2 separate regions of the Homo sapiens genome follow, and region 2 is linked to region 1. A link means that fine-mapping ties the variant in region 1 to the expression of a gene that starts in the linked region. Tissue or cell type: whole blood. Region 1 holds a variant in brackets; the other region holds the start of a gene. All regions are shown on one strand. Distances are between the middles of the regions.

Region 1 (2,757 bases):
TGTGACTGAAGACAATAAACATTTTTTTAGCTCATGACTCTGCAAGGCAGTTCTTTGAATCTGGGCTGGCCTCAGCTGATGTCACGCATGTTCATAAAGCATGAACTCATGGTTCATGGTGGATTAGCAGATGGAGGTGGGCTGGGAGCTGTCTGGGCCATGGTGGCCTCACCCACATGTCCTGGAGGATGGCTGGCTGTCATCTGGGTGATGGTGATGACCAGGCCACGTGTCTTTCCTCCTCAGTGGGCTAGGCTACCTAGCCTCCGTGCATGCACGGAGGTCACAGGGTCCTGAGTTTCTTAGGAGGGCAAGTCCCATTGGCAGCCACACTTCAAGTCTCTACTTGTGTCTTTTGCTCCTGATCCACTGGTCAAAGCAAGTGGCATGTGAGATGCACAGTCACAGTGTGGGAAGGGGCAGTCCATGGCTGTTGACACCCAGAGGCATGAACAAATCATGGGCATTTCTGCAGCCATGCACCACCACTGTTTTCAGCATTGAGATGTGGGGCTGATGCATTCTTTGCATGGAGAAGACCTGTGGCCCTGCAGCACCCACAGGTTTGTGCTGGAGGAGGAAAGAGCATCATTCTCTGGCCAGGATGTGGTAGGAAAGGCAGGTGGGGTAGGACTCCTCTTTATGAGGCCAAGGCCCGGATGGCCTGTGGGGCAGGGGAGCAGACAGGCTTTGAGAGCTATGGCCACAAAGCTACAGGGACACTGGAGGTGCTGGTGGCTCCCACAGACCTGTTGGTCTGCAGCAGGCTGGGTGTCATGAGGCTAGTGGTACTGCTCTCCCAAGGGTCCTGAGGCCCAGAGGACAGAGGGAGAAAGTCATAGGGCAGAGAGTGACAGAGAGGACTGTGAGGGTGAATAAGGGTGGTAGGGAGCAAGACAGACAGCAAGAAACACACATGCATAGACAGACACAGATGCAGGGGAAAGATGGACACATGCAACCCTAACACAGGGAGGAATGTGGGGCGTGGAAGCTACAGAGAGACTCAGCTAGAGAGAGACTCAGGCAAAAGGAGGGACAGGCAGACACACAGACCAACAGATAAGCCAGGTGCAGTGGTTCACTCCTGTAATCCCAACACTTTGGGAGGCTGAGGCGGGTGGATCACCTAAGGTCAGGAGTTTGAGACCAGCTTGGCCAACGTGGCAAAACCCAATCTCTACTAAAAATACAAAAATTAGCCAGTCAAGGTGGTGGGTACTTGTAATCCCAGCTACTTGGGAGGCTGAGGCAGGAAAATCACTTGAACCCAGGAAGCAGAGGTTGCAGTGAGCTGAGATCACACTACTGCACTCCAGCCTGGGTGACAGAGTGAGACTCTCAAAGAAGAAGAAGAAGAAAAGATAAAATGATTGGCATGGACACAGAGAGAGACGCCATTACACAGGCTCATGCAGAGGTATAGAGATGGAAAGACCAGAGACAGAGACAGAAGCACACATGGAGAGCCACAGAGAGACACGGAGGAGAGAGGCAGAGAGACACAGTTGGAGAAAGGGAGAGACAAAGAGGCCAGAGACAAGTGCAGAGAGTGGAACAGACCGATTCACAGACACGGCCAAGGCAGTGAGCCACGTGCAGAAGTGGGACAGCAGAG[A/G]CAAGAGACATGCAGCAACGTGGAAACAGAGAGACAGACACAGAAACATGGCAAGAGCCACAGGGGGACAGTGAGGTTGGAGCCTTCTGCCTGCAGGACACCAGCTCCTCTTACCACACATGGGGCCCTAATATAGGGACAATGTCCCTGCCTCAGAGACAGTGGTGGGTGGGAGCTCAGGCTGGTGCTCAGGTCCCAGAGGGCTCTCCCTTCCCTCCCCACAACTCATTTCTAGTTTTTGTAATAGGCCTGCTGCCTCCTGGGACTTGGGTGGTCTGAGAAGGGTCCCTTGCCCCCAGATCCCTTGAAATAGGGGCCCATGGGGTGACTTGGCCTCTCCTTCTGGCTTCTCCAACTGGAACTAGCGTCCCCCTGGAGAATCCTGGGTGCCTGGCACACCTTCCTGGAGTGGGGCATTATTGCTCAAGACCTAGAAGAAATCACCCACCACATTGAAATAGACACAGATACTCTACGGAGGAGTGCGCAGAGGGAGTGGATATCCTATAACATGAGAGATGGCCGAAGGCCAAATTCAGTGTATAGGCACATTTTATCCACCCTGCCCTGGCTCTAAATCTTTTTCCTTGTAATTAATTATGGTGGACACTATGGCCAGCCCAGACCCCCTCTTCATGGTCCCACCCCATCCCCTAGCTGTGGTTCACAGCAGTGCCCCATCCTGCATAATTGCCCAAGATAATGCCTCTTCCAGGGAGACCAGATGATTGTGGTGCCCAGCCCTCTTGTCTCAGTTTGGAACAACTCTGAAGGGTCATCTCAGCTCTGGGCTCCCCCTAACATCAGCTTTGATTGCATCCACGTGGCAAACGAACTTCTCCCCACAAGAGCACTCCCCAAAAACCTTGTGCTCAAAACTCCCCGTCTCAGACTCTTTCCAGGGAGCCCAACCTATTAGCTGTTAATATTTAAAAATCAGAGCTGTCACGTACACATCGAGATTCCTGCATACGTTGAGAAATGGGGAATGTTTTTGCTCTGTTTCCCACTTGGCTTGGCCAAGTCCCTGCCACCCCCTTAGCTTTCCTCACTCATGTGACCAGCCAGCCTGTGAGCATTGAAGTTGGTGACTCTGGCTTCAGAGCCTTAAGGGGTGTGGGGTGTGCTTGCTTCAGACT
Region 2 (2,617 bases), 200 kb before region 1:
AGGTGTCAGGCACTGAGCTTGGTGCTGGGCGACATGGTGGTGAACAGCCCCCCTGCTCTCACAGAGCCTAGGTCTGGTGAAGGAGCTCACAGCCTAATGAAGCTCTGCGTTCCCAGAGTGGGGGACATGGTGGCAGTGGGTATCTTTAGGCCTTGTGCATGAACAGGGCGCTAAATAACATTGAATTACACATTGTAGACAATTATTACCCTTTCAGTTACCTTCAGATCACATCAAGGAGAGAGTCCTGGTTGGATAGTAATGTCTTTAACACCCCTCTAGCATTTATTAATTTCCTCTCTTAACAAATAAAAGATGACTTCAGTCGAAGATGCTTAGGACAGATGACGGCACCTGGAGATATTTTAATAATGTAGATACCTCTTGCTGTTCAAACTCAGACCAAAAGAGATAGGCTTTTTTTCCCCCAGAGGGTGCACAAATACGACCAGAATTTGTGAAGACGAGTCAGAAATGAATGAAATTTGGAAAAATATTGATCTACTGAAATCCTTCCTCCCCACACTATTAGCCCTATGTTACAGTTGGGGAAACGGAGTCGTTTTGCAGAGGGGATGGACAGAAGGTAGGGAGTTCTCTTCCAAACGTGCAGGAGGCAAGCAAAGCCAAGAATCTTCTCTGTGGTGGAGTTAGAGACATATAAAATAAAGATCGCTCCTCCCCTACCTCTGCAGAACGTGTGTGTGTATGTGTGTGTAAGTGTGTGCGGCCACAAGCCTTTCCGAATGAGTGACAGCGGGAGCCCATCCCTCCAGGAGACGCGTGCAGAATGACCAATGGGATGGATGGGGGTGGATGGGTACCAGTCTCCGCAGAGGCCGGGGTGGAATTCGCTGCGCCCCACCCCTTCCACCCGCTCCCCTTCGCCCCGTAGGTCTTTCCACTCTCGCTCCTCCCCTGGGCACATCTCCTGAACGCAGCCCCGGGGGCCGAGGACGGGGTGGGGTGGGGGGCGAGGCTCGGGTCCGACGACCCCGGGCTGCGGTCCCGGCGCTGCAGAGCTGCGGCTGTGCACGCTTAGCCGCGAGGCCCGCGGTAGCCCGGGCGCCGATATGTAAAGCAGCTGGCAGCGCTGGGCGGGGCCTGGGCGCGATGCAAATGAGGAGGGCGGGGCTGGCCCGGGGCTCCGCCTCCCTCCCCCGCAGCTGGGGCCAGCGGTGCCAAGCGCAGCTGGACGAGCGGCAGCAGCTGGGCGAGTGACAGCCCCGGCTCCGCGCGCCGCGGCCGCCAGAGCCGGCGCAGGGGAAGCGCCCGCGGCCCCGGGTGCAGCAGCGGCCGCCGCCTCCCGCGCCTCCCCGGCCCGCAGCCCGCGGTCCCGCGGCCCCGGGGCCGGCACCTCTCGGGCTCCGGCTCCCCGCGCGCAAGATGGCTGACCCGGCTGCGGGGCCGCCGCCGAGCGAGGGCGAGGAGAGCACCGTGCGCTTCGCCCGCAAAGGCGCCCTCCGGCAGAAGAACGTGCATGAGGTCAAGAACCACAAATTCACCGCCCGCTTCTTCAAGCAGCCCACCTTCTGCAGCCACTGCACCGACTTCATCTGGTGAGCGCGCGCGCGCAGGGCACCTTCCCGGGCCCCCGAGGGCAGCGCCGCGCCAGGGACCCCCTCTCCGCGCCCTCTGCGCCCTCCGCGCCCTCCGCACCCTGGGACCCCGCGTCTCCGGACTCCCGGCTCCGGACCCTGCTGCCCGGGACTCCCGGATGGACAGTCCTGCCGTTGCCCTGTCCCCACCCTGGTCCCAGACGGGCCGCCGCGGGGCGCCTCCTGCCCTCTCCTGCTCTCAGGCGCCTCTAGAGCGCCCAGGGGCGGCGTCGCGGGAGCCTTTGCTCCACCTGACTAGGAGCGCGCGGGGTCTGTGCCTGCCCTGGAGGGCAGCGCCTCGGGTGCTCTCCGACCCGGGGTTCCCTATCTCTCCGCCTGCTTCCGGGCGCGAGGAGCCCTCGCCCCCCACCCCTTGTTTCCGGGGGGGGCGGCGCCCTGGGTGTCCTTCTCTATCTCCCTGCGGGCATGGGACATCCTTTCTCACTCCTCTGTGCCTCCGGGCAGCGCCCTGTGTTATCTCCCATTGCCCCTCCCCGAGGGCCTGGGTTCCCCTTTCCACTCCTCGGTCACATCACTGCGGGCCCCTTTCTTCCCCAGTCCCTCCAGTAGTGGGGCATCCTTTCCTCCTTCCCAGTCCCCCTCCCAGAGGACACCACCGCCGCGGGGTCACTCTCGCCCTCCCTCTGAATGCGTCTTTATCTCTTCTCTTTTCCCGAGGGTGCTCGGGGCATCTATGGGTACATCTGTCGCCTGCCTTCAGCCCCTACCCCGACGGAAACGCTCCCCACTATCCCGCCACCTGGTGGTCGCAGCCTCCTCTCTTCTGCAGGAGTGAAGGCAGATGGGGGTTACAGCCGAGCTCCCACCTACCCCCACAAAGGCGGAAGACTCTTGGGCACCCGCCTGTGGCTGGGAGTTTGCACCTGGGGTACAGAGGCAGGGAGGAAGGCGGGTGACTCTGTGGGTAACTAGCTGGAGGCTGGGCCCCCCGGGCTGCCTGACATACACCTCCTTCTGCTTTTGCAGGGGCTTCGGGAAGCAGGGATTCCAGTGCCAAG

Evidence for each region. PIP is the estimated chance that this variant, and not a neighbour inherited with it, causes the effect.
Region 2: it holds the start of PRKCB, and the variant in region 1 is fine-mapped to the expression of PRKCB in whole blood (INTERVAL, PIP above 0.99).

The regions. Positions count from the first base shown.
Region 1 is chr16:24,032,415-24,035,171 of GRCh38, forward strand. The region is part of intron 4 of PRKCB (protein kinase C beta); the gene reads left to right. Among named protein-coding and RNA genes, the nearest start is that of MIR1273H, 170 kb to the right of the region's middle. The variant A/G (reference allele first, on the strand shown) is at 1,619.
Region 2 is chr16:23,834,790-23,837,406 of GRCh38, forward strand. PRKCB (protein kinase C beta) reads left to right here and starts at 1,194. Exons shown (of 17, transcript NM_002738.7): 1 at 1,194-1,559; 2 at 2,586-2,617. The coding sequence starts at 1,387. RefSeq lists silencers at 690-1,329, 1,360-1,439, 1,770-1,849 and enhancers at 803-1,350, 1,351-1,896, 2,160-2,299.